Linked DNA regions of Homo sapiens. The protein of the gene in region 1 purifies or fractionates together with the protein of each later gene. This does not show direct contact. Each region holds a gene or a part of one and is shown on either strand. Other genes may lie near its edges.

Region 1 (2,536 bases):
TTTCTTAACCCTAAGGGAGTGAGTCGAGGTCAAGAGTGGTTGGGTTCAACTCTGACAAAGGCAGGTGAACTCCTGACCTGGCAAATTCATTTTTTTCCCTGTTCCAAGAATTACTTGACTCATCTTTAAAGCGGTCACATTTACACTGACATTTTTCAGTGGTGAGCAAAATCTTGCTACATAAAAAACTGTGCAAAATCCTTCCGTCTTGTAATATATGAATTCAGGGCCTCAGATGGGGTAAACAGGGCCTACAGTGCCGAACATTTATCTTTCTTATTTGAACGAACAACTCTTCCTTCCTTCCTGGAATGTGACTTAACGTTAAGAATTTCTATTAAATCTCTGGGTACACCCAGAGACCTCAGAAAGCTCTCTACAGAGAGAGCAAACATCCTCCTGTACTTGGCAAAAGAAGAAACAGATGCTTGCGTGGCTTGCAGGCTCAGCTGCTCAGGGCCGCTCTGTGGAAGAGAACCAGTGAACCTGGGTTGCCAGAAAAAATGTTAATGTTGAGTTGAGAATAAGCATTTGCACTTGTGAGTAGTCAACAGATATGTAGGACATGTGAGTGCAACGGAAGCGGCACCCAAACTGGACTGCCCTGTAGTCAAAGTTAGGGGAACTGGGGCTATTTTGGGTTTGGGCCATTGGGTATCCATTTTCCCTTTCTGAGAAGTACCCCTTCTCCATCTAGCTCAGGAACTCTGGGAAGATGGCCACACCCAGGCTCCAGGGGTGGGCTCTAATTAGTCTATGCAAATTAGTTCATCCCATTCACTTCTCTCCCCCCTTTCATGATTGGTTTAAGAGACAGGCCTACCAGCAATGGTATGCAAGACCTTTGCTGGGATTTCTGAGAAAGACACTTGCTCTGTGTAGAAGCTACTAGGATAACTTCTCTCCTCTGGACAGTGTGGAAAATAGACTTGAGTCTTAAGAGCATGGTGGCCCTTTGCCACAATTCTGAATGCAATGTCAACCCAAGGAGGAAAGGAGAGCTAAGATAATTAAGAGATGGGAGCTGGCCGGGTACGGTGGCTCATGCCTGTAATTCCGGCAGTTTCGGAGGCCAAAGCAGGTGGATCACCTGAGGTCAGGGGTTTGAGACCAGCCTGGACAACATGGTGAAATCCTGTCTGTACTAATAATATAAAAATTAGCAGGGCGTGGTGGCACATGCCTGTAATCCCAGCTACTCGGAAGGCCGGGCAGGAGAATGGCTTGAACCCAGGAGGCGGAGGTTGCAGTGAGCCGAGATCATGCCATTGCACTCCACCTGGGTGACAAAGCAAGACTGTCTCAAAAAAAGAAAAAGAAAAAAGAAAAAAAAAAAAGAGATGGGAGCTGAAATCCTGATCAAATTGGACCAACTGGACTTTTCACTCACTGAACCAATAAATTCTTATTGTTGAAGCTAGGCTCAGCTGAGGTTTGTAGTACTTGCAACCAATGTTTCCAACTGCCCAACTGCCACATGGTGTGTCTAAGATGATCAGGGTGCATATCCATCTATTTGTGTAATCTAATTGAAAGGGCATATATATATTTTCCTGAAAGAGTACTTGTCTCAACAGAAACAGTATTTATTGTACACAGCTTTGCACCACAACCTCTAGTCTCTAAAGTTTTTTTTGAAAGCACTAAACAGTACATTCAATAACTAGGTGGGTATCAATAAAAGAAACTAGCCAGGTGTCAAATGCAGCATATTTTAATTTGTTTCAAATAAAGCAATATATGTATATATATTTTTTCAGAAAAACACCAGATGTTAAATTCTACAAAAGCGCATGTGTCCTCAGCAGATCATGTTTGTCTGATTATTAAGAATTCTTTTTTGTAACATTAACTCTCTAAAGACAATCAATGGACTGACATCACTGCTACAACACAGGTTGCTAACTGAGCCTCTGATCTTCAGCCACATCTTGATTTTCCTAATAATGAGTAAATACTGCCTGGCTAAAATGCTGCAAAGTCTTGATGAGAGAAAGCATCAACAGATCAAGCAAAGCCATGAAAATTATGAAGCAAGCTAGAGCTGATTATTAGAATTAGTAAAAATGATTAAGAGAGGATGACACAACCATACGGGATTTGTATATTCTGATTGACACTCTTTTGGCAGCGAATTGGGTCAGCACCTCGGGCAGGGAACCAAAACTGAGTGAAAACTGCTCTTTTTCCTCCTAGCTCAGGCCACCAACGTCACAGCCGGGACTGAGAGAACTGCTGCATCTGTGGAAACTTCTATTCTCGTGGGGCAGAGATTGCACTGTGAAACCCTACCGACACTACCCCGGAAGGGCCTGGCCTCCGAGGTGTCTGCAGCGTGCTGCCTTCGCCGGGGCTTTTCAGAATGGGCCGGGGCCTCGGGGGTCTTCATCCCCAAGGAAGCCTCTTGATTTTTGGCACCGCCTTTGTTTTTGGGCCGGAAGCCGTTGTGCGGCTGTCTTCTGTGTTCGTGGCGGCTGTTGCCCTTTCCCAGTGGCTCGGCTTCATTCCCACTGCCCTGCGACTTGGCAGGCCCATT
Region 2 (3,500 bases), on another chromosome or scaffold:
TGCTCCTCGAACCCCTGGGCTCAAGCCGTCCTTCTGCCTCAGCCTTCCAGAGTGCTAGGATTATAGGCATGAGCCACTGCACCTGGTGCAAAATTCTCATAATGCAAATATTTAAGGCTTTTGATATATACTGATAAGTCATCCCTCTGGAGAGGCTGTCTGAAGTGGTGCTCCCACCTACCATGTCTGGAAGTTTCTATTTTATTACCATCCAAGGTGGTGAATGTCTTATGATTATTGACCATTGGTATCTGTAAATTTCTTGTTTGATATTTTTTTCGGCGTGTTCACCTTCTAGTTTTTTTGTTTTCGAAAGAACCCTTGCGCTGGAAAGGATGGTAACTGACTCTTTGCCTTATTTGCAGCATACGCTGCCTTTTTTGTGTGTGGTGCTTTTTTGAGTCTGGAGAGGCTTGGCAGCCGCTGGTTCAGGGTCTCTGGTTACTGTGTTGCCCACTGGCATCCGCTGCCACCTCCTCTGTAACTTGGAAACAGCTTTCTGCTGAAAGCCTGGAAGCCCCTCATCACACACATGCAGGCCCTGGCCAGGCCAGATGTCCAGCAACAGGAAGGTGGAGGGAGAAGCTGTGGTGCATCCACGAGTGGGAACACTGCTGGCAGCGAGCAGCAGGCGCCTCGCCCACACGAAGCACAGCTGTTGACGCTGAGCTCGGGGGACGGAGCAGGCAAAGATGTGCGGACAGGAAATGGATTGGCAGCTGCCAGGGGCTGGGGGTCGAGGGGAATGCGGAGCTTCCTTATGGGGTGATGAGAAGTCCTAAAATTGATTGTGTTGATGGTCACACAACTCTGTGAACAGACTAAAAACCACTGAATCGTACACTTTAAATGGGTGAATTTAATGGCATATGAGTTATATATCCATAAAGCTGTTTTTAAAAAGAAGGTTGACACAAAAGTGTATGTATGATATGGTTCCATTTATATCAAGTTCTAGGACAGGCAAAAGTAATCTATGATAATAGAAGTTAAACAGTTGGGGCGGGGCAGATTGGCTGGAGACGGTGATAGAAATGTTCTTTGTGTTTTTAGTGGCGCTTACTTGGGTATATGCAGTTGTCAAAACTCATCAAACTGGGAAAAAATGCATTCTAATTTAAAAAAAAAAACACATGGGCACTTATGTCTTCCCTTTTTTTTCTTTTGCTACGATTTGAAAAAGGCTATTTTTCTTTTCTGTTTTTCTCAGTTAATGGTTCTAAAGTGATTTCTTTGCTGGGTTATCTCCCCTTAACTCCCTCTCCATTGACAAGGATCCCAGCCAGCCCTCACCCCACCCCCACCAGCTAGCAGCTCCACCACACCTGTGGCCAGCTCGCCTTGGGAAACCACCCATGCCATCATCGTGCATATGATCTAATGGCTTTAGAGAACTAGGAACAGAGTTATTCCCCAACAAACTGACTGGGAACCTGTTCTGATGAGTATTTTAATTTGTGTGATAAACAATCATTTTGAGAGGCTGGGGTTTGCCATTTCCCCTTCCAAGAGGAAGTGCCTTTACGCATTTGAAACTTGACATGCCATGAAGGTATTTTTGGAGGGCAGGGGACATTTGGGAAGTCATGCAGATTACCTAAGGCAAGTGATACTTGCGTTTATGGTGCGTGGGGAATCTGTAGGCACAGAAATGAGACTCAGCAGCAGAGGACAGACAGCACCTGCCTGCCTTCTGGTGGAAACTCAGTGGTGACGGGAGCTTTGCTCATTGCCTTTTTCTTGTGGGGGTAGGAGCTGGTCAGGCTCACCATCGAGAAGCAGGGACGTCCGTCTCCGACGAGCCCCGTGAAGCCCAGTTCCCCTGCCAGCAAGCCTGATGGGTAGGTGCTGACTAACCCTCGTGTCGCGGGTGTCACGCTCAGTGGCAAAGTCTGCACTTGACAAGGATAGGGCCCGGTGGGGTGGGCAGCATGAGGGTGGGCTGCTGGAGGCCCATATTCCTTTTTCAGTGGTTAGCAGTGTGTGTATATTTCACACAGGCTTGAAGTATTGCCCTGTCTCAAGTTTACCCTTCAGCATGACTGTTTCCAAGGATCTTCTGTGAGCGCATCCAGTGACACATACCAGTGCTTTTCCTGGGCAGCTTCGTTTCATAATGACAAAGAACTTTTAAAGGCTTGGGTTTGGGTGCTTTGACTTGAGAGCACTCTTGTTTGATCAAGAGTAAACTGAGGATGACATGGATGGTTGTAAAGGTTTATATTCATCTCTACTCCAAGCTCCTGGTAAAAATATAAAACATAAATTTGGAGCTTTTTTTTTTGTTTTTGAGACAGAGTCTCTGTGGCTCAGGCTGGAGTGCAGTGGTGCGATCTGGGCTCATTGCAGCCTCCTCCTCTCAGATTAGAGCAATTCTCTTGCCTCAGCCTTTCAAGTAGTTGGGACTACAGGTGCACGCCACCATGCCCAGCTAATTTTTGTATTTTTAGTAGAGACAGGGTTTCACCATCTTGGCCAAGCTGGTCTCAAACTCCTAACCTCAAGTGATCTGCCCGCCTTGACCTCCCAAAGTGCTGGGATTATAGGTGTGAGCCACTGCGCCCGGCCTGGAGCATTTTAGAGAACCCTTAGATCATTTTCAGATGAGGAAATTGAGGTGCAAAGTTGGGGGCACAGCCAAGCTCCAGTAGCTCATTAGCAACCAAACCAGAACCCCAGGGTTCTATATCCAGGGAGCCTGCTCTTCAGCCCCACCTCACCCACTGTGTTCTTCCTGGTCACGTCCTCACCCTCTCAGGGCCTGTGTGTGCTCTGTCCCGCCTTTGACCTTCTGTAACCCCAAGTTCTTCCCAATTCTCCAGCCCAGCAGAGCTCCCCCTGACAGACCGCGAGGTAGAGATCCTAAACAAGACGACTGGGATGTCACAGTCAACTGAGCTCCTCCCAGATGCCACGGATGAAGAGGTCGCGCCCCCCAAGCCTCCTCTGCCTGGCATTCGGGTGGTTGATAATAGGTAATTACCTTCCTATTTGTCCAGTGCCTCCCATGGCAGAATGAGAAAGAAAGGGAGGAAGACAGGGCTCGGGCCCTTTCCCCTCAGCGCTGAGGGCTTGGCCCCCCTTGGGAGGCTGACTCTGGAGCTGTCCCCACCCCGCCGGCCCTCGCTGGCCACCCTGAGCTCTCCTGAAGGCCTCCTTGTGCCCTCAGCCCAGGGAGACATGGTATGATTTATTATGAAAGAAAAAGAAAGGGTTGTTCTTTTTTGTTCATTTGGTATTTACAGGTTTTATTTTGGCGGAGGGGAGTAGGCAGGAGTTGAAGTGTGAACATTGGGTGTGGAGAGTCTAGTAATGAAAGAACCCCACATCCTGTACCCCAATATCACGCTGAAGAGCTTTGGTGAGTGTGGTTTGGTCTGCCTGGACGTTTCGGTCTGTTTCAGTCCTCCACCAGCATTGCCACCCAAGAAAAGACAGTCGGCGCCGTCCCCTACCCGAGTGGCTGTGGTGGCCCCCATGAGCCGAGCCACCAGTGGCTC
Region 3 (3,500 bases), on another chromosome or scaffold:
TGAGACCTCCTGCTCCCCACAGACGCCACCCAACGTGGAGAAGGCCCTGCGCCTCTTCGGGCAGCTGCTGCACAGCCGCGCGTTCGTGCTTACCTTCATCCACACGCTGGAGGCCCAGAGCAGCTTCTCCATGCGCGACCGCGGCACCGTGGCCTCGCTCACCATGGTGGCCCTGCAGAGCCGGCTCGACTATGCCACGGGGCTGCTCAAGCAACTGCTGGCCGACCTCATCGAGAAGAACCTCGAGAGCAAGAACCACCCCAAGCTGCTGCTACGCAGGTACCTGCCTTGCTCTATCCAGGCCACACCTTTGTCCTGCCTGGGCCTGCCCCCTGTCCAAGCCCCACCCCTGCCAGGCCCGAGCCCCCTTCTCTTGCCCTAGGACAGAGTCAGTGGCTGAGAAGATGCTTACCAACTGGTTCACGTTCCTGCTGCATAAGTTTCTGAAGGTGCGCCAGGTGGGTGGGCGGCAGGGAGGTGGTGGCAGAGGACCGGCCAGTGGTCAGGCAGGCAGCCAGCTGTGCACCTGTCCCTGGCTGCAGGAGTGTGCTGGGGAGCCTCTCTTCCTGCTTTACTGTGCCATCAAGCAGCAGATGGAGAAGGGCCCCATTGATGCCATCACGGGCGAGGCACGATACTCCCTGAGCGAGGACAAGCTCATCCGTCAGCAGATCGACTACAAGACACTGGTGAGCGCAGGGCCAGGCGGGCCAGAGGTAGGGGTGCAGAGAGAGGCCTCGCCCCAGACTGACACTGGAGTCCGCTTTCCCCTCAGACCCTTCACTGCGTGTGTCCGGAGAACGAGGGCAGCGCCCAGGTCCCAGTGAAGGTTCTCAACTGTGACAGCATCACCCAGGCCAAAGATAAGCTGCTGGACACTGTGTACAAGGGCATTCCGTACTCCCAGCGTCCCAAAGCTGAGGACATGGACCTGGGTGAGGTCCCCACCCTCTCCTCCTGGCTCCCACTCATACCCTCCTGTGCCGTGTGACCTCCGTGGGCTCTCCCGCTCCCCACCTGAACCCTGTTTCCAAAGAGGAGTGGGCCAGGCACTTGGGGGCTGCCAGCATAATCTTAAGGGCTGTCTGTGGCCCACAGAGTGGCGCCAGGGCCGCATGACTCGCATCATCCTCCAGGATGAGGATGTCACCACCAAGATCGAGTGTGACTGGAAGAGGCTCAACTCACTGGCCCACTACCAGGTGAGGGGTTGGGGCCCATTCCTCCCCAGGGCCACCTGGGAGCCAGGACCCTGCCTTGAGCTGCAGCAGGACACGGGAGCAGTGGCCCTGGCTCCCCTCGCCCTTCTCCCTGGGCTCGTGGGCTCCCCTCCTGGGTGTGGGTGGGTGGGGGCGCCTTGGCTTCTCAGCTTCCTGCACTGCCCCCCTCTGTCTCTGGGGCCTCCAGGTGACAGACGGTTCCTTGGTGGCATTGGTGCCCAAACAAGTGTCTGCCTATAACATGGCCAACTCCTTCACCTTCACCCGCTCCCTCAGCCGCTACGGTAGGTGTCCTCAGTGTGGTGGCCATGTGCCCTTCGAGGGAACCCCCACTTCCAAGTGCCATCGATTCTGTAGAGTGTAGACGGAGGGTCGGCCAGCGAGGGCAGATGGGTCCCCACATGCTGCTGAGCTCCCGGGAGAGTGGGGCAGGGGCCAGGTGGTGGCCTAAGGGTCACATGCATTCTCTGCTCCAGAGAGCTTGCTCCGCACGGCCAGCAGCCCTGATAGCCTCCGCTCACGGGCACCCATGATTACGCCTGACCAGGAGACAGGCACCAAATTGTGGCACCTGGTGAAAAACCACGACCATGCCGACCATCGCGAGGGGGACCGTGGCAGCAAGATGGTCTCCGAGATCTACCTGACACGGCTGCTGGCCACCAAGGTATGGGCCTGCCTCTCGCCACCTTGGCCTCCGCCCAGAGGTTGTCCCGGCCTTACAGGGGAGGGGCCATGGATCATTTGCTTCCAGTGGGCCTTTCTTCGGGTCTTTGCTGTGGGAACTCTGAGCCTTAGATAAAGGCCATGTCTGTCTGAGAGACCACTGGCCCTGTAGGGAAGCCCCTCTCTTTGCCAAGCCTTTCTGCCTCCATCTGTCCTGCTCTGGGGACATCCCAACCTGGCTCCCTCATAGCCTGTGACCTCTCTGCCCCACACAGGGCACACTGCAGAAGTTCGTGGATGACCTCTTTGAGACAGTGTTCAGCACAGCCCACCGGGGCTCGGCCCTGCCCCTGGCCATCAAGTACATGTTCGACTTCCTGGATGAGCAGGCGGACCAGCGCCAGATCAGCGACCCCGATGTGCGCCACACCTGGAAGAGCAACTGGTATCACCCCGTGCTGGGCTGCCAGCAGCCTGTCTGGAGACTGGTGGGCGGAAGACGCTGGTGGCTCTGCTGAGACCCAGGGCCTGGAGTAGCATCCAGGCAGGAGGGAATGAGGCCTGGCCTGGGGTTGACACTGACGGTGCCATCAAGCCAAGGGGCCTGTTGCGTCCAGTTCTGGAGCTGGACTGCCTGGGTGGGTGGGATGGTGGTGGTGAGGCCTTTGCCCTCTGGGGTCTTGCACCAGGTAGAGATGCTGGTGGTCGGTCGCAGGTGGTGAGAGCGGTGACAGGAGAAGCTGCGGAGGGGGTTGAGCCCTATTGAGAACAGAAGTTCAGCAGAGACTTAGAGGAAAGGCCGTTCACCCTAAATGTGTTGCTCTCACCACCTCTGGACAAGATGTGAGCCGGCCCGACAGGAAAGAGATGTGCACATGGGAGGGGCCCCTTGGGGCTAACTAGGGAGCCTCAGGCGCACGTCCCTCTGTTGTCCACAGCCTGCCGCTGCGCTTCTGGGTGAATGTGATCAAGAACCCGCAGTTCGTGTTCGACATCCACAAGAACAGCATCACGGATGCCTGCCTGTCGGTGGTAGCCCAGACCTTCATGGACTCCTGCTCTACATCCGAGCACCGCCTGGGGAAGGACTCGCCCTCCAACAAACTGCTCTACGCCAAGGACATCCCCAACTACAAGAGCTGGGTGGAGAGGTGGGCTCCGCCCTGCTGTGGGTGGCAGAGGGCAGGACCTGCCCCTCCCTGGGCTGCCTGTGCGAGGCAGGCCAGCTACAGGCAGGAAGCCCGGGGGCTGGCTGGGCAGTGAGGGCAGGGGTTCTAGTTTTTGTGATGTCGCCTGAGTGACATACTCAGGGTCCCAACAGGTATTATCGAGACATTGCAAAGATGGCATCCATCAGCGACCAGGACATGGATGCCTACCTGGTGGAGCAGTCCCGCCTCCACGCCAGCGACTTCAGCGTCCTGAGTGCGCTCAACGAGCTGTATTTCTATGTCACCAAGTACCGCCAGGAGGTGTGTGTCATCCCCACAGACTCCCAGTTACTTGGTCCTGAAGGTGCAGCCAGTGACAAAGGCAGGAGGGTTGGTGGGGGTTGGGGATTGTTCACGGTCTCTCCCCTGACCAGGGCCTGGGGCCGGCACAGGTGATGCTCTC
Region 4 (3,500 bases), on another chromosome or scaffold:
CGCCCAGCCTGGAGTGCAGTGGCACAAACTCCGCTCACCGCAACCTCCACCTCCCAGGTTCAAGTGATTCTCGTGCCTCAGCCCCCCCGAGTAGCTGTGATTACAGGTGTGCACCACCACGCCCAGCTAATTTTTGTGTTTTTAGTAGAGACAGGGTTTCACCATGTTGGCCAGGCTGGTTTCAAACTCCTGACCTCAAGCAATCCACCCCCTTCGGCCTCCCAAAGTGGTGGGATTACAGGTGTGAGCCGCCGTGCCTGGCCTCCACTCTTTTTAGACACCTTTGTTGAGTTGTTGTTTTGGGCCTGTAAGTTTCTCTGGCTTATTACCACTTTCCCCTCCTGTTTCTAGGGAAGAAATGATTATTTAGATAAAAAATAATTTGATAAAAGGTAGCAGATGATACCAAAGGTAAATCTTTGTCTTGAAGAGCCTGAAGCTGTGAGCATTGGTAAAGCCGTGGGCTGCAGTGAGGGAAGGGCCGGCTTGGAGCCGCCCTCAGCCTAGCCTCCGGGTGTTACCTGGAGCCCTTGCTGTCAGGACGGCCTGTCACTTCTCGCCCTTCTCCTGCCCTGCCAAGCCTGTCCCTTCCTGTGTTGTGACAACTTTTTTTTTTAAACAAGTATTTCTACAGCTCCATTATTTTGAGATTCTTGGAAGAAAGATACTATGTAAATGAAAATTAAAAATAAAATTCTCGCTGGAGGGAATCGTATACATGTAACGTTTTTGATGAGGTTTGGAAAAGACTTTCGTTCTCCCTCTGGAACTGGGAACATTCTGTGGCTCCCGTCACCATTTCTGTGTCACTCTGAAAGGTGTGGCAGATAATGGTGAAACATATTATTTTCTGTTTTTCACCAAGTAGTTGACCCAGAACTTGAACCCATGCAGTCCTGGGTCCAGTGAATTATTTCTGCTGCATACAGTTCTGCTGTGTCCTCGCCGAGAGCGTAGTCAGCAACCGCCCGGAGAATACCAACCTTTCAAAAGAAAAAGGGCTGGAGTCCCCAACATACAGAGATTACAGCTAAAATTACGACCAGAGCTGTTAATCAAATCCCATCTTCCCTTCCTATTCACACAGTAGAGATGTTATAAGTCATACAGGTTTGAGACAGAAAATTGAGAGCAGAGGAGCATGTGTTTAAACCAGCATAGAAACATTCATTTACCAGAATTGCTTTATTTCAGCCGTATCTCAACTCGTTGCTTACACAGTAACGCATGCTGTCTCGTCACTCAGCCAAGTGGGAGACAAGTTCAGGTTTCTGCTCCATGGGATCCAGGAGCCTGCAGTCACCGATGAGCCTGGAGGACCACAAGGTGGCCAGGGCCCTTGGAGAGCTGTGCTGCGGAATCGTAAAGCTACCATCCGGAGCTGGCCGTCCCAGAGGGAAGGCTTGGTCATCTCTTCCCCTCCACCTGGTCCTCAGCCCTGGTCCCGCAGTTTGTCATCCCGCAGTTTGTCAGCATCGATGTGGGACTGGGAGAGGAAGGATATTGCCAGTTATGGTTGAATGTCATTGTCAGGGGAGTAAGAAGTAGTTTGTGATTGTTTTACGTGGCTCTGTGTTGGTATATAATTATGCTGTCATCTTAAAACGCCCTGATACCTTAATGAAATCTGTGTGTGTGTGTGTGTGTGTGTGTGTGTGTGTGTGTGTGTGTGTGCGCGCGCGCGCGCAGTTAGTCTTCGGGGCTGCTTATTGTGTGTGAGAGCCAAGTCTTTCTAACACACGAGCTGAGTGCGTCGTCTTTTACTTGTTTCAAAACTGCCCATTCGAAACAGGTCGCAATCCATTATAAATGCAGCTGCCAGATTAATCTTCCCGAACCATTGATTTCATCATGCCATTCCTCTCCTTAAACATCCATGGTGGCCCACTTAGGCACAGAGTGGAGACCACATTTCTTAGGGTAGCAGACAGAGTTCCTGATAGTCCTTTCTGCCCCACCTAAACCTTTTCCATCCCAGCTAGAATGACTCCAGAATCTTGCTTATTTGGGGGAGCTCCCTCCTCCTCCCTCTGTACATCTGAGCTTCAAGCCTACTTCAGAATTTTTTTGTTTTTTTTTGTTTTTGATTTTTTGAGGCAGGGTCTTGCTCTGTTGCCGGCTGGAGTGCAGTGGTGAGATCATAGTTCACTGAAGCCTTGACCTCCCGGGCTCAAGCAATCCTTCCACCTCAGCCTCCCGGGTAGCTGGGACTATAGGCATGCACCACCACGCCTGGCTGATTTTTCCATTTTTTTTTTTAGAGACAGGGTTTTGCCCTGTTCCCCAGGCTGGTCTTGAGCTCCTGGGCTCCAGTAATCCTCCCTCCTTGGTCTCCTAAAGTACTGGGATTATAGAGGTGAACCACTGCGCCCGGCCTTCAAGCCTATTTCATGCATTCCTTTTTCTTTTGCCCCTGTGTGCCCGGCAGTAGTGATGGAGACTTAAAATAGCAGTGGCTTCCCGCCTAGAGGGCGGACAGGACTGGCAGGACGAGGCTGGGATGGATGGAGCAGTGTGTCTGAGCCTCTGGGAAGGCTGCAGGAAGGGCTTGGAAGGCGGGTCGGGGAGTGGGCAGGGGGCGCCCACTGAGTTCTGTGTGCTTGGGGAGGTGTGGGAGACAGGGCTTTCCAGCAGAACAGTCGTGGGGTGGCCGGGGATCTCTAGGGCTCCCCTCTGAGCTTGGGTTCCCTCCCTCTGCCCTGATTATCCCTTGGGTACCCACCACACCATCGCCACACAGGCCCCCACTCTCTGCCTTGTGTGTCCGATTTAGGACTCATTCAGCTGGTTAAGAATGCAAAATTAATTCTTTTTTTTAATATAGTGAAAGCAGGTAGATTATATTAAAATGGCTGTGTTTTGAAAGCTACTGATAGGTACACCTATGGAATAGATGTTTCTTTTTCAGTCCCATTAATTATCTTTCTGTGCAAAGTAACATAAGTGTTACTTTTTCAGTCCCATTAATTATCTTTCTTTGCAAAGTAACATAAGTGTTGGTTAAAATACAGTTGACCCTTGAACAACATGGGGATTAGGGGCTGATCCCTTCTGCTGTTCCCCCTACCCCACCTGCACAGTCAAAAATCCACGTATAACTTTTTTTCTCCCCTCCCCTCCTTCTCTTCTCTTCTCTTCTCTTCTCTTCTCTTCTCTTCTCTTCTCTTCTTTTCTTTTCTTTTCCTTTCCCTTCCTTTTCAGACGGGGTCTCATTCTGTCACCCAGGTTAGAGTGCAGTGACATAATCATAGCTGACTGCAGCCTGGACATCCGGGGCTCAAGCAGTCCTCCCACATCAGCCTCCCAGTAGCTGGAACTACAGACACTCACCAGCATGCCTGGCTAATTTTTAATTTTTTTCTTTTTTTAGAGACAGGGTCTTGCTTTGTTGCCCAGGCTGGTCTTGAGCTCCTGGGTTCAAGTAATCTTCCTGTCCCAGCCTCCTAAAGAGCTGAGATTATAGGCATGAGCCACCAGGCCCACATAAAACTTTTCATTCC

The links. The genes of interacting proteins can lie anywhere in the genome.
Region 2: the proteins of SPATS2L (region 1) and RAPGEF1 purify together in Homo sapiens (affinity purification with mass spectrometry; one large-scale study listed by BioGRID and IntAct). This does not show direct contact.
Region 3: the proteins of SPATS2L (region 1) and PLXNA3 purify together in Homo sapiens (affinity purification with mass spectrometry; one large-scale study listed by BioGRID and IntAct). This does not show direct contact.
Region 4: the proteins of SPATS2L (region 1) and CUX1 purify together in Homo sapiens (affinity purification with mass spectrometry, with the first as the bait; one large-scale study listed by BioGRID). This does not show direct contact.

Annotation. Positions count from the first base shown.
Region 1 is NC_000002.12:200,477,693-200,480,228, reverse strand, and holds part of SPATS2L (SPATS2-like protein), read right to left. Parts: coding exon 2,198-2,536; 3' UTR 1-2,197.
Region 2 is NC_000009.12:131,628,577-131,632,076, reverse strand, and holds part of RAPGEF1 (rap guanine nucleotide exchange factor 1), read left to right. Parts: intron 1-1,752; coding exon 1,753-1,841; intron 1,842-2,822; coding exon 2,823-2,975; intron 2,976-3,404; coding exon 3,405-3,500. UniProt on the Homo sapiens protein: Guanine nucleotide-releasing protein that binds to SH3 domain of CRK and GRB2/ASH. Transduces signals from CRK to activate RAS. Involved in cell branching and adhesion mediated by BCAR1-CRK-RAPGEF1 signaling and activation of RAP1.
Region 3 is NC_000023.11:154,468,281-154,471,780, forward strand, and holds part of PLXNA3 (plexin-A3 precursor), read left to right. Parts: intron 1-22; coding exon 23-279; intron 280-382; coding exon 383-449; intron 450-542; coding exon 543-689; intron 690-775; coding exon 776-935; intron 936-1,098; coding exon 1,099-1,202; intron 1,203-1,407; coding exon 1,408-1,504; intron 1,505-1,696; coding exon 1,697-1,887; intron 1,888-2,161; coding exon 2,162-2,331; intron 2,332-2,601; exon of another isoform or gene 2,602-2,729; intron 2,730-2,824; coding exon 2,825-3,037; intron 3,038-3,207; coding exon 3,208-3,358; intron 3,359-3,500. UniProt on the Homo sapiens protein: Coreceptor for SEMA3A and SEMA3F. Necessary for signaling by class 3 semaphorins and subsequent remodeling of the cytoskeleton. Plays a role in axon guidance in the developing nervous system.
Region 4 is NC_000007.14:101,824,126-101,827,625, forward strand, and holds part of CUX1 (Homeobox protein cut-like 1), read left to right. Parts: intron 1-3,500. UniProt on the Homo sapiens protein: May be involved in intra-Golgi retrograde transport.